Homo sapiens: one gene and its partners. The protein of the gene in region 5 purifies or fractionates together with the protein of the main gene of each other region. This does not show direct contact. Each region holds a gene or a part of one and is shown on either strand. Other genes may lie near its edges.

Region 1 (3,500 bases), on a different chromosome or scaffold from region 5:
TCTCTACAAAAAATACAAAAATTAGCCAGGTGTGGTGGTGCACGCCTGTAGTCCCAATTACTTGGGAGGCTGAGACAGGAGAATCACTCGAACCCAGGAGGCAGAGGTTGCAGTGAGCTGAGATCACAGCACTGCATTCCAGGCTGGGTGACAGAGGGAGACTATGTCTCCCACGGCAAAAATAGTACTTATATGGCTTGGCTTGGCCCCTTAGGTGCTTATGATCTGCTCTAAGAACAAGCCTCCAGATGGACCTGAACCCAGATGGACCTGAACCCAACTCACAGCCTGAAGCAGGCTGCCAGGCACTGCAGACTGAGACAACTAAAGGCTGGGGACTGTAAGCTGAGCTCTAAGGTGGTGTGTCTGCTAGGGCAGCTACAGCAGGGGATGACCAGCAGGCCTTCAAGTGAGCAGCACTCAGCTGCAGGAACAAAGACAAAGCCCAAGTGGCATTCTTAATTTGATCTTTTTAAAATGCTTAACAAAAACTGAAAGTGTTTAAATCTCATTTTATCTTGCTATTTGGACAGAGTCAAGGGCCAGTCTCCCCCTTACACACACACACACACACACACACACACACACACACACACCGTCAAAGGCCAGTCTCCCCCTTACACACACACACGCGCACGCGCGCACAGGAGCTACTTACTGTTGGAGCCCCGAATGCCTAATTTATCTTCGGGTTTCCCATTAGTGACTCCACCAAAGTCTCTTTCTACTATGAATGCTGTGATTTTGTCTTTCACTGATCCATCAGAATCAACGACCTCAGTCTTTGCAAACACAGTAAAAATATTGGCCAGTCCTCCATTAGTAATCCAGACCTGAGGACAGAAAGATGGACTTTGGAGAAAACCAAACCCCTATGTGACCCACCTCAGCTCTGTCTTTGTCCATCAAGCTCCAGCTGCCAGTCAGACCTCAGGCCAGACATGCAGGGTCCTTGGCTCTGCAGAAGCCAACCAAGCATGAGTGAATAGAGGACAGGGCTCAGCCCACTTTCCCCAGAGCAAGGATTTTCCCAAGGGACATGGATGGCCAGGTGGAGGCGGGGGCGGGGGAAAGAACACCCAAAGTTGTCAGACAGCTCAGGCTCCACCGCCAGACAACTGCATTTCTTCAAGAAAGAAAGGGTTTAATCATTTCTTAAGGTATACATATATAAAAACATCATGTTGTAGATGTAAATACACACAACATTTATTTGTTAATTCTACAAAGAAATGAAAAAAGGCGGGAGGGTGGTGAGGAGGAGGAAAGGAAACAGAGGGAGACAGAGGCAGAAACAGACTCCTTAACAAACAGCAACAGATGGGACTTGTGTGGATCTTAATTCAAGCAAACAGTTAAACCAAAAAAAGGTATGAGGCAATCAGGGATATTTGAATGCTGATAGAAGTAAGAAATTATTAGCTGGGCACAGTGGCTCACGCCTGTAATCCCAGCACTTTGGGAGGCCGAGGTGGGCAGACCACTTGAGCCCCGGAGTTTGAGACCAACCTGGGCAACACGGTGAAAACCCATCTCTACCAAAAAAAAAATACAAAGAGTTAGCTGTGTGCCTGTACTCCCAGCTGCTTGGGAGGTTGAGGTAGGAGAATCACCTGAGCCCAGGAAGTTGAGGCTGCAGTGAGCCAAGATCGTGCCACTGCACTCCAGCCTGGGTGACAGAGCGGGACCCTGTCTCAAAAGAAAAGAGAAATTATCAATTTTTAAAATGTGATAAGGGTATTACGGCTTTGTGTTTATTAAAAAACAAAAACAAACAAAAAAAACTCCTGTCTTTTAGAGAGGCATGCTGAGATTGTTACCATGCGATCTGGAGGTGGCGATGCTGCTGGAAGAGGCACAGTGGCCATAAGCAGGTGACTGCCGGAGTTAGGGCCAGCCAGGCACACAGAATATGTCTGAAACTTTGTGTAACAAAAAATTTAAAGATTTTTTGGGTTTACAAGCCGGGCACAGTGGCTCATTGCCTGTAAACTCAGCACTTTGGGAGGCCGAGGTGGGCAGATCACTTGAGGTCAGGAGTTCAAGACCTGACTGGACAACATGGTGAAACTCCATCTCTACTGAAAATACAAAAATTAGCCAGGAGTGGTGACACGCACCTCTAATCCCAGCTACCCAGGAGGCTAAGGCAGGAGAATCATTGGAAACCTGGGAGGCAGAAGTTTCAGTGAGCTGAGATTACACCACTGCACTCCAGCCTGGGTGACAGAGACTCCATCGCAAATAAAAAAAACTAAAAAAAATTAAAAACAAACACATAAAAGCAGCTCAAGAAGGTAGTCGGTGCTACAGCAGCAGGTACAATCCCTGGTGTGTGGAGAGTGCTCACTCAGTGGCAGTGAAGGTTGTGACTGAGACCCTAATGTGGCCATGGGGAAGGAACCCTACCTTGGAGCCATTGAGGATGTAGTGCTTCTTGTCTTCACTTAGTGTGGCTCTGCTCCGGATTGAGGCTGCATCGCTCCCACTGCAGATGCAGAAAGATGTGGTCAAGGGAGAATACTGGGAATAAATATGAATGCTTTTGAGGGCCTGAAAATGGAGGTTTTAGTACTTGTAAGAGGTCAGCAAACTTTTAAAATGAAGGGTCAGATAACATATTCAGCTTTCCAAGCTGCAGGATGTCTGTCTCACCTCCTCAACTCTGCTGCTATTAATAGAACATGAGGCTGAGGCAGGTGGTTCACGAGGTCAAGAGATTGAGATCTGGCCAACATGGTGAAACCCCGTCTCTACTAAAAATACAAAAATTAGCTGGGTGTGGTGGGGCATGCCTGTAGTCCCAGCTACTCGGGAGGCTGAGGCAGAAGAATCGCTTGAAGGCGGAGGTTGCAGTGAGATGAGATTGAGCCACTGCACTCCAGCCTGGGTGACGCAGCAAGACCCTGTCTCAAAAACAAACAAACAAAACTTATTTATAAAAAACAGGCAGGAGGCTGGATTTAGCCGACCTCTGCTTCAATACATCACGTAAAAAAGCGGCAGTGAAAACAACTTGGGCTTAGGTTTAAACATGGAAATGGGTGCTTGCAATGGGCTCATCTGAGGTCCTGTGAGGATGAGTTCTGGGCACCCCAGGAAGGATGACTGTTCCCAGGTTCTCATGCAAAGTGAAGCAGGATGGAGGATGGTCCAGGTGATGGACTTATCATCAGAGTCCCGAGTGCTGCCGCAGCCCTGCTCCATCCAGCAGATCACACAGCCTCACTGAACCTCAGCTCCTAATGTGTAAGTGGGAGCAGTACCACCCACGCTATATATTCTGAAAGGTGCTTTGAAGCCGGAACGTTATTACTATATTGTATGTCAAGGTGTGTTGTAAACCACAAAAATTTATTTAATAAGTGCTGTCAAGCGTGGTATCTCACTTGCAAGTCTCACTGGGACAGAGAAATAAGGTCAAGATAAGAGGAATGGCAAGAACAGTTGCTGAGTTGATTCTTTGCAAGATTTTGGAAAGAAGGAAAAGTCAGCTACTC
Region 2 (3,500 bases), on a different chromosome or scaffold from region 5:
AATAGGACAAGAAGCCAGATCTCTTTATATATATATAGGTAGATATAATTTTTCCTCCTTAAAATATAAATAATTTTAATTATATATAATTATTTTAATATAGATATTTTAAATCTTATAATTTATATATATATATAATTTATATATATATATATATCCAAAGTAGTGGTGCACAAACTTTTCAACTCTGTGTCCTTTCTCTTGTCTAATTCAACAGACATTGATGAATGCAGAACCTCAAGCTACCTGTGTCAATATCAATGTGTCAATGAACCTGGGAAATTCTCATGTATGTGCCCCCAGGGATACCAAGTGGTGAGAAGTAGAACATGTCAAGGTAAGTTTATTTTTTTTTTCATATGTTAGGTATTTAGTTTTAGCCAGGAAGAGACAAGAGGAAGTTATAGGATTCTCCTATAGACTTTCATTTTTCCCACTTTCAATATACAATTTAAGCTCTTTTTTCCCCTGTTCATCATAAAATATATACATCTCATAAAGAGGTGATTCTATGCTAATGCCGACATTTTTCGTCCTTAAAAGATAAATAATTTTAATAAAATATTGATATGTATTCTATGTAACCTACATCATCTCTTTGAGATACATCTTCAAATCATCCACTGGAAAAGATTCAGTTATTAAAATGTTTCACCTGTGAGTTTGAGTTTAGAGCATAAGCTCAATATGTGAGTTAAACATACCTCCATCCAGTCTTAGCCCTCTAAAACACAAGGATTATAAATTGCGTAAGAATGTAGGTGCTGAGAAAAGTCAGCCTAATATGTTGTAAAATATAGTTGAATATTTTAGAGAAAACTACTAGCCCCAAAATAGCTAATGACCTTGGGTCCAGTTTCAAAATAAACATTCAGATGATCTTCACACCTATACGTAAGTGGAAGAGGCAGCTCCCCACAATGGTATGATTTCAGAGTTTCTCAGGAAGATCTAAAAAAAAAAAGGACCCTACCTCCAATGTTGCATGTAGTTGAAAATTTTCTTAACAGGGAAAGGACTGTCAGATAAAACCAAAAACGTAGAAAATCCTGGAAAAGCTAGTACAAACACTTAAATTTACACAAAGCAACAAAAGAATGAAAAAATGACCAAACTTGACAGAAAACCTGTTTGAATCCCAGCTCCACTGTATTCAGTCTGCACAATCTTGAACAAATTATCAAACTACTCTGAGCCTCAGCTTCCTCATTTGGAAAAGGGAGTTGTGGGAATTTAGTGGAATAACATACATAAAAATAATTTGTAAACTATAAAGCTTGTACAGGTCAAGGTGTTTTTATGAAATTTACTTACCAATGTAAGTGACCAGTAGTACGTCTTCTGTAGAGAGTCCTTTTTAATCAGAGTTGGAGTGAAGGCACACAAGGACAATAAAGATCCTGTTAAGAAAAGAAAGATCAAGGAAAGGAGACACTGGGGATTCTCAGTCTATATCATGATTTTACAGGAAAATATTAACTTAGAGGAAATCCATTACCTGGGATTTTATAATAGGCACACAATTTTTCGACTAGACTCCAACCACTGAGTATGAGCATAATCAGAATGTAGTTCATTGCACAATGAACATCTTTATAACCCTTTCCAGGTTACTAGAGACTTTATAAATGTTAATTATGGGAAAACATTGCATTCCAATGATTTTACTTACTGAACCCTAATTGAGACTTTCAACATGCATATTACATGCAAGAAAATGTTAGCTAGTGGAATGTCTTAACAAATTTCTCTGGAGTCCTTCAAACAAATATCTATGTGTTTCTGATCAAAAATTGATTTGATGCTCAGCAAAAGACAGAAGCAGATTAATGCACGGTGGGATCCGACCTGCCTAGCCTATCTATGTGGAAACATTTATATCTATTGTAATTAAAGGTGGAAAATGCACCAAAATTGTAAGTGGGGGATTCCTAAATGTTATATATTGAAGATATGCAGCTTCAGAATGTTTGGTTAAGCCAAAACATTTTTTGTGAAAAAGACTTAGCATTCTTCTAAAGTATAAAGCAATTGCTTTCTCCTACGGAAATCGTTCCTTCTGAGCCTTGTCCACAGGAATAAAATGAAATTGAAAGTTTTGGATTCTTAACTTTCTCTAAAAGACTTATTTTGTGGATGAAATAACTGTTCTCATTTCACAGGCCTATACAAATGAAAACTGTGTGTGTGTGTGTGTGTGTGTGTGTGTGTGTGTGGAGAGAGAGACAGAGAGACAAAAGAATACACATACACATAGACACACACTCATCAAATATTTTGAGAGTATTAATTTCTGAAAAATCTTCCAGAATGATTAAGGTGATGATTATGCTAGGCTCTACATTAATGGAAGTAATAAATGAAATTATAAGGTTGTCTTTTGCTTCTGTTGGACTCCATATAACAAATAAGTATTAGTTTTCCCTGTACCTAAACAGCATCTTTATTCTTCAAAAAAGTGGAAAATACTGAAAGGATAAGTCAATTGTGATTTCATTTGAAGAATCTAAGTTTTCTTTCTTCAGCCATAGCCAGCCCAAGAAGACACTTTTTGTAACTGTCTCTTGGAGACTACCTAGCTTTCCCAGTCTGTTCTTGAGTTCCAGATAACTTTAGCCAGTTTGGAAGCTAAAATACTTTTTTTTCCTCCAAAGTCAAGGCATGAATTATTTAGAGTATATGAACTTGAATGAGCCACTAAACCCTTATTTGTTTTTCATCCATATCAAGTGGAAATATCTTTCTCACCTACCTCCACACAGTTTGTGTGAAGAGCAACTTAGTTCAATTTAATATTTCTTAAAAGCCAGATGCTCTATTGCATTAATGCTAGGTGATGAAAGGATTAAAAGATGGGTACAATAACCCTTGCCCTCAAGGAGTTTACAAGCTAATAGAAGGGTTAAGCTAGACATGCAGATTGCAATAATGCAAAGCAGAAAGCAATAAAGGCCCTTAAAAAAGAACACCGGGTATGAGAATTCAAAAGAGATCATATCCCAGCACCTAGCCCATGCTTGGCTTACAGCAAGGATTCAGTAAATTACTTATGGAATGAGTAAATTCATGAATAAAAATATCTCATTGTGGAGAAGGAATGATTCAGAAAAAGTTTACATTGAATAAAATATAAATCACTATTCAAATGTAAAGGGAGACAGACATAGAGATGTAGATATTAATTTTATTTTTATTGTTGTTGTTGTTGTTGTTATAAATGTAATGGCTCTCTAGTAAAACTGTTCTCTCAGATGTCATCTGGAGGCTTCTGATTCCCAAATTTAAAGTCAATCTTTGTCCAGCCTGAGGTAAACACAACCCTTCTTCCCAGGATTCTCTCTCCCTCTGACTTCTTTGGCATTGCCTTTTCCTGGGTTGTCTCCCTGCACTGACAGCCTCTTCCTTAACTTCCTCTTTTTCCTTACAGTCCTAAAATTGCTATGCTCTATGAGGTGGAACACTTCATAGTTTCACTTCCTGTGCTGTGCTTCCTCTGGACA
Region 3 (2,706 bases), on a different chromosome or scaffold from region 5:
TAATAAAAACTATGCGAGCCTGAATGAATTCTCAGCCAAATTTAGTCTTGTCTCTCATCTTGATTGGATTAATTCCAAATTCTAAAATGATTCAGTCCACAATAGCTCTAGGGGATGAAGAATTTGCCTTACTTTGCCCAGTTCCTAAGACTGTGAGTTGTCAAATCCCTAGACTGTAAGCTCTTCAAGGAGCAAGAGGCGCATTTTCTCCGTGTCATGTAATTTTTCTAAGGTGCTTGGCAGCACTCTGTACCCTGTGGAGTACTCAGTACCTTTTGTTTGATGTTGCTGACAAGACCTGAAAAAAAATCCCTTAAAAAAAAAACCCATTAAAGTGTAGCAAAACCGATGTATTATTTTTTCTCTTTTCTCATAAACCATAAGATATGTATATCAAAATGATAATTTATATGAAGCATCTGCTATCCTTCACATAAGTATAGTTTATATGAACTACAAATACCTTTCATCAACATTAAAGAAGCTTAAATTGAACACTGTGTGATTAACTTAACTTTAATTCAGACCTGAATATAACGAGAAAATGAGTGATTATCTTGAAGTTGACACAGAATATACCACATCCCACGAATTACTTAAATTTACTTTCCAATGAAAAAAATCAGCCATTGGCGATATAACTACAACAACTATGGCAGAAATGCTTTCAGGCTGAATATTGCTGCTTCATAAATAAGACAATTTTAGCAACTAAATCCAGACACAATTAGTTGGAGATGACTTCCAAAATAGATGAAACTTTAGAGATGGAAAAGTGATTTGGCTGAGGGATGATACTCCCTATGCCATCTGCATATTGGCACCCTGCTTTGGGGTTTGCTGCAGAAATGGTGCAATCAGATGGATGTGAGGAAGCAGTTATGGACTGGCTCACAACTTCTCAGAGAAGCTACACTGGAATCTTTACAGCTTACCAGTTTCTCAATTATGTCAGATACAGAATAATCACCAAAAAAGGCTTTAGAGGGGAAAAATACTCTAATATTTTGAATTTTAAAAATAGATTTAATTTACCTTTCCTACTTACCTTCCTAGATGGCATAATCTACACTTAAATGACATTTAAAATTAGAAATTATATTAACTTCAGCATTGTTTTGTGTCCTAAAGAGATATTGACAGGTAAATTCAAAAGTTGTATTTGTGACTTAATCTTATTTTTACATGGCTAAAAGTGGCCTATGCTCTTCTGTGGAGTTTTCCTCTTAATTTCTTCTATTCTTGATATTAAACGGGAGGACATATAGATTGAATTCTCTTTTCCTGAAGAATTTTTATATTCCTTATGAACTTTGACAGAGTTGTCTTCTTTCAAAGGTCCTTATCTTTCTAAACTATCTATCTTCAGTTGTTTAGTATAAAGAGAGAAAATTGTTTCACATTGAAGCTTTTGCTCCTTTTTACAAGGTATTCTTAATCGATTAAATATCACAACAGTGACAAGACATACACTAGGTTTCAAAAATATTACATCATAGGACTTCAAAGAATGGAAGAATATAGCCTAGCAGCAAACAAAAGTATCAGCCTTTTATGATTTTAGTTTTAGTGTGGATCTGAAACTCCTTAAAAGGAGTGCTATTATTACTGTAATTAAAATGTCTGAAGTTCGTTCTTAGAAACGTTGTAGAGTATTTAAAGAAACATTGTTTTAAAGACAGTGTAGTAATGGATAAGACTTTAAGTATGGTGCAATTCCAGATGGTTAGTTACTGATTTTTAAATAAAAACACCAACGTTTAAATATTAATTAATATTAATTTTGGAATAATATCTGTCGCCCCCATTTCCCCCTAAAACAGAACTGATTTCAACCCTTGGTTGCTGACCTAGGGCATGTTATAACCCTCACAGTCCTAAATCATTCTTTCTCATGGCATTATACTCTTCCAATCTTTTTATTATATTCCTCAAAAATCAGTGGCAAGGAATGGGAAAGATAGATAAGGGACTGTACATTTTAAAATTTTTAAAGATTTCTATACTTTTATGGCCATGACACATCATTTTCATTTTTCTGTTGTGCACCCTTTTTCTACAGGAATGGTAAAAACAATGGAACATCAGGTCAAACAACTCTTGCTACTAATGTAAACTCACTCTCAGAAAACCATTCTCAAATAGACAATGAGGATCGTAAAGAAAGCATGTGAATGCTATACAAGTGGGAAATAAACTTCTTTGAAATAAAAAGACGTCACTTGTAGAGTTCACAGGTGACGGAGGAGCAGCCGGAAGTGTGCCACCAGCCACCATCTTCAGTTCTGGGAGCCTGAGTTTACATGTTCCCCAAATGGCACAAGCCTCATAACAGTCCAATGAGTCAACAGACACTTGGGAAATATTAATAAACAAATTTTTATGAGCTATTACTACAAAGAACTTCAGCAAGAGGGGAGATAGTTTAGTGATCTTTTAGTAAACATTTTTAGCGTAACAGTCTTTGTGACCAGATAGTTTAAAAAAACGCTTATAAACACCATTGCTCCGTATTCAGCTGGTGTACACTAAAAATAGGATAATGGAAATACATGTTCTTAAAGCATTTCCACAGGAAATGTTCATATTTTTCATGACATTCTAAATCATTTTGCAATTACATATGCTACATTAGCTAAAACACAGGTATTCTTTATTGCACATTTCAAAGTTGTAAGGACGCTCTAGCTTAAAAGGTGATTTTTA
Region 4 (3,500 bases), on a different chromosome or scaffold from region 5:
TCATTTTATGCAGTTGCCCACTGCTTTTTGGTTGTTTTCAGAAAAGCAAAGGAGAAATAATGACTTATTTTGCAAACTTTTTTTTTTTTTAACTTTTTTAGAGACAAAGTGTTGCTCTGTAGCCCAGGCTGGAATCCAGCAGTACAGTCATAGCTCACTGAGCCTTGACCTCCTGGGCTCCAAGCATGGTTGAGGAATAGCTGGGACCACAGGCACACACCACCATGCCCGGCTAATTTTAAGATATTTTAAATTTTTTTGTAGAGATGGCAGTCTCACTGTGTTGCCCAGGCTGGTCTTGAACTCCTGGGCTCAAGCGATCCTCTTGCCTTGGCTTCCCAAAGGGCTGGGATTATAGTCATGAGCCACTACACCTGGCCCACTTGCTCACTTCTAAAATAAGGTTTTAAATTTTTCATTAAGAAGTTGTATACTAAGCACATCATGAATGTATAACACAGCTGTTACGCATGTGGACACCTGTGTAGCCTTCACCTAGAGGGAGGTAGAGGATGCATTCAGCCTTCCAGGTTTCCTCAGGAGACCTGTCTCCCACAGCACCGTGTCTGATTTCTGTCTGCCAAGACTGTTCTTGAGCTTTATATATGTGGAGTCACACGCGTGGTCTTTTGTGTCTGGCTTCTTTTGCTCACCATCACCATCAGGTCAGCAAGGTTGACCGTGCTGTTGCATAAAGCAGTTGTTCATTTATTTTGAGAAAGTCTCACTGTTGCCCAGGCTGGAGTGCGTTGACATGTTCTCGGCTCACTGTAGCCTCTGCCTCCCGGGCTTAAGCAATCCTCCTGCCACAGCCTCCCAAGTAGCAGGGATGACACGCATGTGCCACCACGCCTAGCTAATTTTTTGTTATTTTATTTATTTATTTTTTTAGAGCTGGGGTTTTGCCATGTCACCCACGATGGTCTTGAACTCCTGGACTCAAGCGATCCACCGACTTTAGCCTCTCAAAGCACTGGGGTTACAGGATTTTGCCACTGCACCCGATTTTATATATTTATTTAATTATTGTTTCTTATTTATTTATTTATGAGACGGAGTCTCGCTGTGTTGCCCAGGCTGGAGTGCAGTGGCACCACCTCGGCTCACTGCAACTTCTGCCTCCCAGGTTCAAGCAATTCTCCTGCCTTAGCCTCCCGAGTAGCTGGGATTACAGGTACTTGCCACCACGCCTGGCTAATTTTTGTATTTTTAGTAGAGATGGGGTTTCACCATATTGGCCAGGCTGGTCTCGAACTTCTGACCTCGTGATCCGCCCGCCTTGGCCTCCCAAAGTGCTGGGATTACAGGTGTGAGCCACCGCGCCCAGCCTGTTTTTTGTTTTTTCTTGAAATGGAGTTTCGCTCTTGTTGCCCAAGCTGGAGTGCAGTGGTGCTATCTTGGCTCACTGCAACCTCTGCCTCCCAAGATCAAGCGATTCTCCTGCCTCAGCCTCCTGAGTAGCTGGGATTACAGGCGCATGCCACAATGCCTGGCTAATTTTTTGTATTTTTAGTAGAGATGGTGTTTCACCATGTTGGCCAGGCTGGTCTCAAACTCCTGACCTTGTGATCTGCCCGCCTTGGCCTCTCAAAATGGTAAGATTATAGGTGGGAGCCACCATGCCCGGCCTTATTTATTTATTTTTAAATGGAGTCTCACTCTGTCTCCCAGGCTGGAGTACAGTGGCGTGCTCTTGGCTCACTATCACCTCTGCCTCCCTGATCCACGGGATCCTCCCACCTCAGCCTCCTGAGTAGCTGGGATTACAGGTGTGCACCGCCACACCTGGCCAGTTGTTTTGTGTTTTTAGTAGAAACAGGTTTCATCATGTTGGCCAGGCTGGTCTCGAACCCCTGACCTCGGGTGGTCCACCTGCCTCAGCCTCCCATAGTGCCGGGATTATAGGCGTGAGCCACCACACCTGGCCTCATTTCTCTTTTATTTCAGTGTATGTGGTAGTCCCGCTGTGTGAGCGTGCCATAGTTGATGTATGCATTTCACTGTGCGTGGGTATTCGCACTATTTCCTGCTTCACAATCTTTTTAGCTGCGATACCAAAGTCCAGAGAGCTCTGGAAACGAAAGTGTTTCATGATCCGTTCGGCACAAAGTCTGACCCAGACTGAAGTGAGGTCGTTCACATGGTGTCTGTTGGTCCCACAGTAGTGTGGCTGTTGGCACGACTCTGCCCAGCGCGTTCTCTTATGTGTTGTATGTGCGTTATTTTCCTGGTCTGAACTCAGGAAAATTCTGAATTCCAAAACACAAGGGCCCCAGGAGTTGTGGACCTGGGACTGCCTCTTGGCTTGGGGTGTGATCAGGCATAGCAATGGCTTACCTGCTTTCCTTTCTTTCGTGTAAATACCTTGAGGGCCGGTTAAAGACTAATCTCTGATTACACTGTAAATACTGTTAACACACCTTTGAAAGGCCTTGCCAGAGCTAGGTCCAGCTGCCTCAGAGGGTGAGGAGATATGAATGGCCCTGGCATCTTTCCTGGCAGATTTCTCCTTGGTTCAGACGGAGCTTAGCTGTGATAGCTGACTCTTCCCCTAGGAGCCCTGGGTGGGTTTCTGTGGCTCTGTGAAGGCCCTGGAATCCCCTGCAGAATCAAAGTTGTGCCTTTTTTTGAGGTCAGTGACCAAGACACCCCCTGCAGAGCCTTAAGGGGGCCATGACTCCTCAAGCCCAGGACTTGAGCCTGAGCTAGGGAGAGCCTCAGAGACCTTGGTCCCCCCGCCCCCACTATTAATTTCAACTTGTTGAAAGGGAGTTTGTTTTCGTATTATAAAATACAAACATACCAAAGGGTGCAGATTGAACGATAATGTTCCCTCCGCCCTGTCCTTTTGCTCCTGGTGGTGTGGAACCTGGGTGCCCCTCCCAAGAGAGCCCGGGCCTACACAGGCCCTTGCGTGGATCTCTTCCCTTCTTGCAGAGGTGATAAACTACTGCTCCAGGCTGTTAGTACCAGCGTGAGGTTTTACAGTCAGAAATACACATTTCAAACTAGTACTAAGACCCCCTTCATTGTGATTTAACTAATGTGGTTTTCTTGGCCATGTTACTTTAGATTTTAGTTGTAAAGAAATAGACAGGGCTCCAGGATGCCAGGCGATGCCCATGGCGGCTGTGGTGCCTGTAGCTGCCATTTCCTCTTTTATTTGGATTGAGATGGAGCTCCTACACTGTGCAGCCCCCTTCATATCGCACAGTTCAGTGGCCTTCGGCCCATTCACAGTGCTGGGCGACCACCTCTGTCCAGCTCCAGAACGTCTTCATTGCCCCAGAAGGAAAACCCATAGCCTTCAGGTGGTCCCTCTCCATCCCTCCCTCCACCCCTGGCAACCCACAATCCACTCCGTCTCTCTGGATTTGCCCATTCTGGATGATTCACGTCGATGGAACCGTAGGCTGTGTGGCGTTCTGTGCTGGCGTCTGTCGCTGAGCGCAGTACCTCCGCGGCTGGTCCCCGTCACAGCGTGGGTCTGTGTTCATTCC
Region 5 (3,500 bases):
GTCTTGGACTCCTGGGTTCAAGTGATCTTCCTGCTTCAGCTTCCTAGAGTGTTGGGATTACAGGTGTGAGCCACTGTACCTGCCCTGTAATTTTTAATTTTTTTTTCCCCTGAATATTTTCTGTCTGAGGTTGGTTGAATCAGAATTTAAAACCCATGGATGTGGAGGGTCAGCTGTATTTGAAAATGGATACAATATACCTAAGTGCCTAAGCACTGAAATTTCTTACTTTCAGGATAACCACCTTATGATGAATGCAGTTGCCCATTTTCTTGAAGACTTTTTCTTGTGGTTTTTTTCTTTCTTTTTTTTTTGAGCCGGAGTCTCGCTCCGTCGCCAGGCTGGAGTGCAGTGGCGTGACCTCAGCTCACTGCAACCTCCTCCTCCTGGATTCAAGCGATTCTCCTGCCTCAGCCTCCTGAGTAGCTGGGGCTACAGGCGCGCGCCACCAAGCCCAGCTAATTTTTGTATTTTTTTAGTAGAGACAGGGTTTCACTATGTTGACCAGGATGGTCTTGATCTCTTGACCTCGTGATCCACCCGCCTCGGCCTCCCAAAGTGCTGGGATCACAGGCGTGAACCACTGCGCCCAGCTCTTTAAGACTTTTTCTTATCCCAGTGCAGAGGTCAGGATTATTCCCGCATTTGAGTGCACTTAGAGGAGATAAGGAATTTGTCTCAGATTGCGAGCCAGTAAATGGGGGCTGTTAAAACCACTAGGTTGTTTCAAACTCATCATTCTGACATTACAGAGATCTTGCTTAGTGTTGATGGCCCTAGCCAATGGGTTAGTTATCCTTTCCAGTGTGTTTGGTCAGCTGCAAATCTGGATAAGCGTGTCTCCTCCACTTTGTCTGTGTTTACCAGTGGAGACCTCCCACCAGGTGGACATAAATGGTTCATTCTTTTGTGCTAATTGGGTGCCGTAATCCAGCCCCTTGGGAATCTGCCCACCCACACAAGGATGTGCTCAAGATTTTCAGGATTCTTTCTCTCTGCATTCCCTGAAGAGGAAATAATAAAGGAGAAAATAAAATCCACCAGTTTGGTAACCTTCCCAGAAAAGGAAATGAAGTTGGTGTGGCATGACTTGTTCTTAACGAGCTTTCTTTTCTTTTTTTTTTTTTTGAGACGGAGTTTTGCTCTTTTTGCCCAGGCTGGAGTGCAATGGCGCAATACTGGCTCACTGCGAACTCCGCCTCCCAGGTTCAAGCAATTCTGCTACCTCAGCCTCCCAAGTAGCTGGGTTTACAGGCATGCACCACCACGCCCCTCTAATTTTTTGTATTTTTAGTAGAGATAGGGTTTCACCACATTGGTCAGCTGGTCTTGAACTCCAGACCTCATGTGATCCACCTGCCTCGGCCTCCCAAAGTGCTGGGATTACAGGCATGAGCCACATGATTTGGTTCACAATTTAAAATCCGTGCTTTTGGGGAGACGTGACAACTCTGAATCCTGGAAATAGCAGTTTGAAAAGGGATCTTGTTTGAATTTTTGACAACTTAAGACTGAGTCTGGATTAATTTAGAGTTTCCAAAACTACCACTGAACCTAGAATTTGGGGATATTTGACATTCAGCTTCAGAACTAGGATCCCACATTTAATAGTGCTTAACTTCAGATTTTCTGTTTTACTTTTTTTTTTTAAAGGAGTCTTGCTCTGTCACCCACGCTGGAGTGCAGTGGCACAATCTTGGCTCACTGCAACCTCCACCTCGGGCTCAAGCGATTCTCATGCCTCAGTTTCTCAAGTAGCTGGGATTACAGGCACGTGCCACCATGCCCAGCTAATTTTTGTATTTTTAGTAGAGACGGGGTTTTGCCATGATGGCCAGGCTGGTCTCGAACTCCTGACCTAGGGTGATCCACCTGTCTCCACCTCCCAAGTGCTGGAATTACAGGTGTGAGCCACCTCACCTGGCCTAAATTCAGTATTCCTTAATGTTCTTTTTCTGAAGACAATCTGGACTTTTGCCTTTTTATAGTACCATAACATTTTCGCCTAAATTGCTCATTTGTATGTGTGTTTCACCATTACTAGAATATAGAGAAATTGGCCAGGTGTATTGGCTCATGCCTGTAATCCCAGTACTTTGGGAGGCCAAGGCAGGTGGATAGCTTGAGCTCAGGGGTTTGAGACCAGCCTGGGCAACATGGTGAAACCTTATCTCTACTAAAAATACAAAAATTAGCCAGGCGTGGTGGCATGTGCCTGTAGTCCAGCTACTTGTGAGGCTGAGGCAGGAGGATTGCTTGAGCCTGGGAGGCAGGTTGTAGTGAGCTGAGATGATGGCACTGCATTTCATCCTGGGCAACAGAATGAGACCTTGTCTCAAAAGAAAAAAAAAAAAAGTATAGAGAAATTGACTTGAGTGCTAGTTACAGGGCTGTGTACACTTATGATTTGTGCACTTTTCTCTATGGTATACTTTAAAAGTGGCTTTTAAAAATGTAGAAAAGTCATCTTCCTTCATGTCTTTGGAAAATTATGCTAATTGTGTTGGTGTTATTAACATTCTATATATTTCCATCTTTGAGGATTTATCTAATACATAGTTGGGCAGGGTTTAATTCTGAGAGATTTGAAATACACTGTCCTAAAGGGTATAGAAGAGAGTTGCCAGGTGGGGCGTGGTGGCTCATGCCTGTAATCCCAGCACTTTGGGAGGCCAAGGAGGGCAGATTGCCTGAGCTCAGGAGTTTGACACCAGACTGTGCAACATGGTGAAACCCCATCTTTACTAAAAATACAAACAATTAGCCGGGCGTGGCAGCGTGCGCCTGTAGTCCCAGCTACTCGGGAGGCTGAGGCAGGAGAATCGCTTGAAGCCGGGAGGCGGAGATTGCAGTGAGCTGAGATCATGCCATTGCATTCCATCCTGGTGACAGAGCGAGACTCGGCTCAAAAAAAAAAAAAAGAGTTGCCATTAATTTAAAAAAAAGTTTTAAGAGTCTGAATTGATGTACTGTTGTTAATATATTAATGTATGATTGTACAGACCGTATTAGAAAAGGAAAAAAAATCAGATACTTTAATGTACTCATTATAGATGTTACTCAAGTGTCATTCAGGGATCATACCTTTTAAAGTTACTCTGATACTTTTCCGTTACCTTCAACTTGAAAGCACAAGAGGTTTTGCAGGCAGAGATATCCATGGTCCAATCTGGTTCCTGTAAACATTCAACAAATTATCTGGACGTCTACTATGTGCCAGGCATTGATTTAATCAGTGAACAAAACATGCAAAAATTCCTGCTCACATGGAATTTACCTTCCAGTAGATCTCAAAGTTCCCTACTCTACTAATCACTGGTATAACCTGGAAAGAATTTATTGTTGGTTCAACATAGCTAAGGAGTGGCATGAAGTTCTGTAGCTGATGTGGGAAGTACCTTGCCAGTGTCTCCAGCACTGGGTTTTCTAGAATAATCCTCAAGCTTTATAGGTTAGGGGGTTGTGTGTTTACCACATCTTGCTGAGACTTGTCTTTTTCC
Region 6 (3,500 bases), on a different chromosome or scaffold from region 5:
CCATCCAAGACCCCTGTCATCTCCATGACAGATGCTGGGAACAGGCTCAGCAGTGGACACAGTCAGGTCTTGTGTTGGGGATGGGGCCAGGAGCCCTAAGAGCAGGCTCCAGTTCGCCCTGCTTCCTCCTGCAGAGGCCAGGTGGTCTTGAAGAGGGGACACGAGTCTGTCCTCATCCTGGAACTGTAAGGGATGCAGGGACATAGGCCAATCTGGCTGGACCCCTGGTGGCTTCCCAGACAACATAGTAAAACTCCGTCTCTACTAAAAATACAAAAAATTAGCCAGGCGTGGTGGTAGGCGCCTGTAATCCCAGCTACTCAGGAGGGGCAGGGTGCAGGTGGGGGTTGGGTGGAGTCGCCCAGTCCTGTTTGGTTGGAACTTTCCATCAGGGTCTCTGTGGTTGACATCTTGTTGCATTTCAGGCTTTTCGGTTCCTTGGTTCTGGACACCACGGAGGCCACTCCAACTCTTTGCTGTAGCTTTAGACAATGCTGTGGGGCAGGTGGGGTGGGGGCATGATCCTTTTGTGTGGTGAGTCCGGGAGGCACACAGGATGAAGCCTCAAGCTCCCATTCACTTTTAAAAACTCCTGACGCCCTCAGCTGCCTCTGAGTTTTTGAGCTTGAGCAGAGGAAATCAAGGAAATTGAGGCTGGCTTCTGATCACATGCCTTTACTTCATCCCCAGCTATTCACGGAGCTTTGCCAACTTAAAATATCCTCATTTGCCCGATGAGGATATTAAAATAAAAAACAGACACCCATTCAACCACCATCTCATATCGTCACCACTTCACAGAGGTAGGGGACATTTTAATGCCCCGGATTTTGGAAGGACGCGGTCTCACAATAAAAGACAGTATTGTAGATGGAATCGGGCCGGCTTTGTAGAGGTCCCTGGATCCTGCTTTGCTTTCACCCTATTTTGTTGCAACCCAGTGGAAATTTTGCCAGAGCAATGCCCTTACACAGGGTGGGATTGGGGAAGCCTGCTCTTAACTGCAGGCCAAATCCTCCATTCAGTTTATAAATGAAAAAACTGAGGCCCGGACTTGCTCCGGGTGGGAAAACTCTCAACCATGAGATCAGAAGCAGACTCCAGGCCTCCCGGTTCCCAGCCCCCAGTCTCCCCTCTGTGACAGTCTGCTTGCTCAGCAACCTGGGAATTAAGATCCTCGTGGCTCACAGGCTGCTGGGGATGGGATCAGGCATTGCCCAAAGCTTCTGCGATGTTTACAGCTAGCAGGCTGACATTCTGGAAGCTTCCACCCAAGGAGTGGTACAGAATCTCTCTGAGCATCTGTAGTCTTAGAAAGAGCACGTGGCCATATCCTTCCTGGGTGTCCAGGGCATGGTCCCCGCAGGCCATGTGACCTGTGTTTCTCTGCATGCCTTGGAACATGGGGCATGCCGCTGATCTACACCATAATCTTTATGGAGGTTTAACTCACCTGGAAAAAATTTAGTTTTAGCAGCTGTCCCAGGCAACAAACGGTATCTGAGGCCTGTGAACTGAGCCAGCTCCATCCATCTGCACCAGTTACTCCGGCAGGCATGTGTCTCTCCTGAAGAGAGGTGGTGGATGTGGTGGCGTGTTGGCCATCGGGCACCGTGTCAGCCTGGAGGAGTGTGTGGTTCCTTTGAAAAAGAATGTTCTCCCAATCCTGGTGTGATAACTTTTCCTTTTGTTTAATTTTGAAGCTTCTGTTTTTTCCTGTGGTCAGTGTGCTAATGTAAGCACTTTTCCTGGATTATCTCATCAATCTTCCCCCATTTTTTTTTTTTTTGAGACAGAGTTTCGCTCTTGTTGCCCAGGCTAGAGTGCAATGGCATGATCTCAGCTCACTGCAACCTCTGCCTCCTGGGTTCAAGTGATTCTCCTGCCTCAGCCTCCCGAGTAGCTGGGATTACAGGCATACGTCACCATGCCTGGTTAATTTTGTATTTTTAGTAGAGACGGGCTTTCTCCATGTTGGTCAGGCTGGTCTCAAACTCCCAACCTCAGGTGATCCACCTGCCTCGGCCTCTCAAAGTGCTGGGATTACAGGCATGAGCCACCATGCCTGGCTTTTTTTTTTTTTTTAGACAGTCTCACTCTGTCACCCAGGATGGAGTACAGTGGCACGATCTTGGCTCACTGCAACCTCTGCCTCCCGGGTTCAAGTGATTCTCTCACCTCAGCCTCCTGAGTAGCTGGGATTTCAGGTGCCCGCCACCATGCCCAGCTAATTTTTGTATTTTTAGTGGAGACTGGGTTTTACCATGTTGGCCAGGCTGGTCTCGAACTCCTGGACTGAAGTGATGTCTGCCCACTTCAGCCTCCCAAAGTGCTGAGATTACACCCATGAGCCACTGCTCCCGGCCTCTTCCCCCATTTTTACAGATGAAGGAAGTGAGCCTCCTTGAGTCTTAGTAAGGGAGGGAGCTGGATTCAAGGCTGAGCAGTTTTAACCCGCAGCGTTGCCTTCCCTGGGAACATTCGAGTTGAAGGTTAACGAGATTTTGCAAGAGTTTGCTCTTGGTTTATATCTAATATTATGCTTTGGATCTAACTCACATGGTCAGATGCAGGGGTCAGATTGAGACTGGTTGATTGAAACTCCTCCGAAACAACAGGAAATGATCTGGGAGAGAAGATTCCAGGTCCCCTGAGGCCCTGCTTCTCTCTTGATCCCCCACAGCCCAGTGTCGAGTTACCAGCGAGTGCCTGTTCTGCTTGGGTGGGTGTCCAGTGTGGTACTGGTCAGAGGTAATTTTTGGATCTCAGAGCTGCTCACAGCTGTTGGCGGTCTGGGATGGAAGAAGCAGGCGTGGCTTCGGTTGGCCCACATTATCCTCCTGACTCACAGTGTTCCAGGGCTGCTCAGCTGCCCTAGGGTTTGTGTACAAATGGCCTTGATTTGACACCCTTCTGAAGGTGGGGGGCCTGACTGATCAGGCAGTTGGTTGGATGCTGTTGACCCCCGCAGAACTCTTGGTACCTATGAGGCGTGGAGTTGGCGTGGGGGATCTGTTAGCCCCAGTCCCCTTTTTGCCCCCACCCCAGCCTGGCCGAGAGTCCTGGGCAGGCACTGAGAAGGCAACACATGGGGTAGGACTTGATGAGCAGGTGGATAGGACAGTGAGGTGGGAGGTGCCTCTGTGGGCCTCAGATGGTCCCCAGCCTGTGTGATGGGGCAGCGAAGCTCAGGACACCTGGTGTTTGGATATCCACAGGTGACCGGATCCCCAGGCAAATGAGCAGCTGGAAGTCCCTGCAGGGATGCGGGAGGCACAGCCAGGGTGGGGCTGGACCCCAGGCCCTTCCCCACTCCCATCGCCCCACCCTCACAGGACACACGGGGGAGCTGTGATCCTCAGGGTGTTCTTTTGTTTTTAGTTTTTTTGTTTTGAGACAGGGTCTCCCCCTGTCCCCCAGGCTGGAGTGTAGTGGTGCAGTCGTGGCCCACTGCAAGCTTGAACTCCTGGGCTCAAGCGATCCTCCCACCTCTGCCTTCC
Region 7 (3,500 bases), on a different chromosome or scaffold from region 5:
CCTGACCTCAGGTGATCCACCCGCCTCGGCCTCCCAAAGTGCTGGGATTACAGGCATGAGCCACTGCGCCCGGCCACAGAATTTAATGATTTTTAAGAGTGTAATGGGTTCCTGAGATTAAAAAGTTTGACAACTTTTGTTCTATTGAGTTGTATCTTTCTTTTTCATATTGATTCATGGGAATTCTGGGGTTTTTTTTGTTTTGTTTTTTGTTTTTTGAGATACAATCTTGTTGTGTCGCCCAGGCTGGAGCACAGGGGCACAATCTCAGCTCACTGCAACCTCTGTCTCCCTGGTTCAAGCGATTCTCCTGCCTCAGCCTCCAGAGTAGCTGGGATTACAGGCACGCGCTACCACGCCCAGCTAATTTTGTATTTTTAGTAGAGACAGGGTTTCACCATGTTGGCCAGGCTGGTCTTGAACTCCTGACCTCGTGATCTGCCCACCTTGGCCTCCCAAAGTGCTGGGATTACAGGTGTGAGCCACCACGCCTGGCCGAATTCTTTATATATTCTAAATGCTAGTCCTTTGCTATTAAATATATATAGCAATGTCTTCTCCCTGTGACTAGTCTTTTCACATCTTTACCACTTTTTTTGTTCTTCATTTCTTTCTGCTTTTCAGACTTTCCATCTGAGATCACTTTCCTTCCATCTGAAATACATTATTTAGAATTTCCTTCAATAAGATGTGCTGACAGAAAACTCTCTTTTGATTGAAAATGTCTTTAATTAGCCCTCATTCTGACATATATTTTCACTGGGTTTAGAATCCTAGGTAGGCAGTTATTGTCCTTCATCAACATTCAAGATAGCACTCTACTGGCTTCCACTGTTGTTGAGAAGTCAACTGTCAATCTAACTATTGTATCTTTGAAGGTATTCTAATGTTTCTCTAGCTATCTTTATGATTTTTCTCTTTGTCTCTGGTCTGAAGTTTGTCTTTGATGTATCTAGATTAGAGATTTTATTTATCCTGCTTGGGATTTGTTAGGCTTCTTGAAACTGCAGGCTAGTGTTTTTAATCAGTTCTAGAATATTATCACTCATTATTTCTTCAAATATCACCTCTGTTCTATGTTTGCCCTATTCTCACTCTATAACTCCAGTTAAAACTACGTTAGATCTTTTCTCTCCATTCTCCATTTTTCATAATCTTTCTTCCGTATTTAACCTCTTAACCCCCTATGCTACATGCTGGATAATATATTCTAACCAATTTTTTAGTTAAACCACCCATCCACTAAGTTTTTAAATTTCTATATTATATCTTTCCATTTTAGAAATTCTTTTGACACTTTTTCAAATCTTTGTGTAGTTTCCTGCAGAGGTTTTCAGCCTTTTATGTCTTTAAACACAATAAGTATAGTTGTCTTATAATTCTAATATAAAAAGTCTTTGTAGGTATATTTCACTTCATTGTTGTTTCTACTAATTCTTGTTCAGAGTAATTTGTTTCTTTGCACACATGGTTATTTTTAGTGACTGGTACTTACTGCCCTAGAAAAATTATTTGAGAGTATTATTTCAGGGCTAGGATAAAGGTGTCTTTCTACAGAAGGAATTTGTGTTTGCTTCTATCCCACACATAGGTGGCTCTCCCAGTCCAGGACCACTGAACCATTCAGGTAGGATGAATTTGAGCAGAAAATCTGCCTGAAGAAGGTTACTTTGTGGTAACCTTGTCTAGATTTCTCCTCCCTCCTGCCCTCCTCCTCCATCTGCTCAGTTCAGTGCTAATGCAATCTTTCTGTAATCTGCCGGGGGATAGAAGAGCTTACTTTTGACTTAATGTTCTAAGGATATAGTCTCTTAGGGCCCAGTTTAATTTGAGTTGTACCTTCTTTTATATTCTCTCTCTTGCATGGACCTTTGGCTTTGACTTTTATCCTCCCCATGCCATGAGGATATCAAAACTGAAGTTCAAGTTTGCCTTCAGTAAAGACATTCAATGCAAAAGCAGTTTCAGTATTCTGCTGACCTCTCAGGCTTTACCTTAATATTTTCATAATCTTTGATACTTTTGAGAAGTTGGATTTTTAAAATCCAGTATTTGAAAATCCTTTTCAAAAACAGAGGGCTAGTCCAAATAAACTAGCCTGTTATATTCCAGGAAACAGATTCATTATTTTTATTTTCAAGTTTTTAACGTTAAAACCAATATATCAAAATGAAAAAGAAAATTAGACATAGTTCTTCCTCCTATATCTCTTAACCTTCATTCAGATTCCTTTCTAGGCTTTGATCACATGCATATATGTTTTTTACATAGGTTACACCAACCTGCCATTTTCACAGCAGCTAACTTACATGTTTATTGGTCAAAGAGAAAAAGAAAAAAACCCACAAACTTGGAAAAGAACATTCTGATATTGCAAAGGTCTTCTTTTGGGAATCAACTTACAGAAAGACGAGATCCAGCTCTTGCTCTGGCAATACTCTCCTTTTCCTTTTCAGATACCCTTCTCTGCACAGCCTGGAAATTGTTTAAGGCTGCAGAGAAGTCATTCATGAGGCGTTCCTTCTGAAGTCTCTGCTGGCGCTAAGGAAATCAAGCAAGAACTTGAGATTTCATATTAACCCAGAATCATTTGGTTTTAATTTCCCTTAAAAGTAAAATTATACCCCTTAAAGATTTCCAACTAGGAAAATTATTATGAAATAGTCTCTTCTTTAAATTAATAAATTTGCTCTTTGCTAGCTCAAGTCCCTGGTTAATACTATAGACCAAGTCAGAATTTTTCTTCTTTCATTCTGACAAACCTGGAACTGGGTTGCATTTAACTTCTTCTTCTTTTTTTTTTTTTCTTTTTATTGAGACGGAGTCTTGCTCTGTCGCCCAGGCTGGAGCGCAGTGGCATGATCTCAGCTCACTGCCAACCTCTGCCGCCCGTGTTCAAGCGATTCTTGTGCCTCAGCCTCCTGAGGAGCTGGGATTACAGGCACCCACCACCATACCTGGCTAATTTTTTATTGTATTTTTAGTACAGATGGGGTTTCGCCATGTTGGCCGGGCTATTGTAGAACTCCTCACCTCAGGTGATCTGCCCGCCTCGGCCTCCCAAAGTGCTGGGATTACAGGCGTGAGTCACTGTGCCCAGCCTGTATTTAACTTCTAAAGTAATCTCCAAAGAACTGCAATTCAGAATTTTGGTGCCCTGGAGAATATAAAAGAGAATAAATACCTCTGGACTCCAGTTGAATCCAAACAGAGATGGGTTTTAGCTAAAATGTTAAAACCCTATTCATCTATATTGAATTCACAGCTTCCCTGTAAACTATAGAAGCATTTCACAGGCTTTTAGTGGTTTAAAATCTTTGAGACTTGGTAAGTACTTCATTTATCTACAGACTACCTCTACTAAGCTTGTTACTTCTATGTCTCAAAAAACATATGCTGAGGTTGAGCACAGTGGCTTATGCCTATAGTCCTAGTATTTTGGGAGGCTGAGGCAGGAGGATCACTTGAGCCTAGGAGTTCAAGACCAGCCTGAGCAACAT

The links.
Region 1: the proteins of OCLN (region 5) and ACAD9 purify together in Homo sapiens (affinity purification with mass spectrometry; one large-scale study listed by BioGRID and IntAct). This does not show direct contact.
Region 2: the proteins of OCLN (region 5) and EFEMP1 purify together in Homo sapiens (affinity purification with mass spectrometry; 2 studies listed by BioGRID and IntAct, with this or other methods). This does not show direct contact.
Region 3: the proteins of OCLN (region 5) and MIA3 purify together in Homo sapiens (affinity purification with mass spectrometry; one large-scale study listed by BioGRID and IntAct). This does not show direct contact.
Region 4: the proteins of OCLN (region 5) and EPN1 purify together in Homo sapiens (affinity purification with western blotting, with the first as the bait; one study listed by BioGRID). This does not show direct contact.
Region 6: the proteins of OCLN (region 5) and FBLN1 purify together in Homo sapiens (affinity purification with mass spectrometry; 2 studies listed by BioGRID and IntAct, with this or other methods). This does not show direct contact.
Region 7: the proteins of OCLN (region 5) and STX12 purify together in Homo sapiens (co-immunoprecipitation; one large-scale study listed by IntAct). This does not show direct contact.

Annotation. Positions count from the first base shown.
Region 1 is NC_000003.12:128,896,620-128,900,119, reverse strand, and holds part of ACAD9 (complex I assembly factor ACAD9, mitochondrial), read right to left. Parts: intron 2,489-3,500; coding exon 2,410-2,488; intron 834-2,409; coding exon 659-833; intron 1-658. UniProt on the Homo sapiens protein: As part of the MCIA complex, primarily participates in the assembly of the mitochondrial complex I and therefore plays a role in oxidative phosphorylation.
Region 2 is NC_000002.12:55,871,783-55,875,282, reverse strand, and holds part of EFEMP1 (EGF-containing fibulin-like extracellular matrix protein 1 precursor), read left to right. Parts: intron 1-217; coding exon 218-337; intron 338-1,314; exon of another isoform or gene 1,315-1,400; intron 1,401-3,500. UniProt on the Homo sapiens protein: Binds EGFR, the EGF receptor, inducing EGFR autophosphorylation and the activation of downstream signaling pathways. May play a role in cell adhesion and migration. May function as a negative regulator of chondrocyte differentiation.
Region 3 is NC_000001.11:222,665,802-222,668,507, reverse strand, and holds the end of MIA3 (transport and Golgi organization protein 1 homolog isoform 1 precursor), read right to left. Parts: 3' UTR 501-2,706; downstream 1-500.
Region 4 is NC_000019.10:55,681,726-55,685,225, forward strand, and holds part of EPN1 (epsin-1), read left to right. Parts: intron 1-3,500. UniProt on the Homo sapiens protein: Binds to membranes enriched in phosphatidylinositol 4,5-bisphosphate (PtdIns(4,5)P2). Modifies membrane curvature and facilitates the formation of clathrin-coated invaginations. Regulates receptor-mediated endocytosis.
Region 5 is NC_000005.10:69,499,290-69,502,789, forward strand, and holds part of OCLN (occludin), read left to right. Parts: intron 1-3,500. UniProt on the Homo sapiens protein: May play a role in the formation and regulation of the tight junction (TJ) paracellular permeability barrier.
Region 6 is NC_000022.11:45,509,383-45,512,882, forward strand, and holds part of FBLN1 (fibulin-1 isoform D precursor), read left to right. Parts: intron 1-3,500. UniProt on the Homo sapiens protein: Incorporated into fibronectin-containing matrix fibers. May play a role in cell adhesion and migration along protein fibers within the extracellular matrix (ECM).
Region 7 is NC_000001.11:27,800,719-27,804,218, reverse strand, and holds part of STX12 (syntaxin-12), read right to left. Parts: intron 2,542-3,500; coding exon 2,404-2,541; intron 1-2,403. UniProt on the Homo sapiens protein: SNARE promoting fusion of transport vesicles with target membranes. Together with SNARE STX6, promotes movement of vesicles from endosomes to the cell membrane, and may therefore function in the endocytic recycling pathway.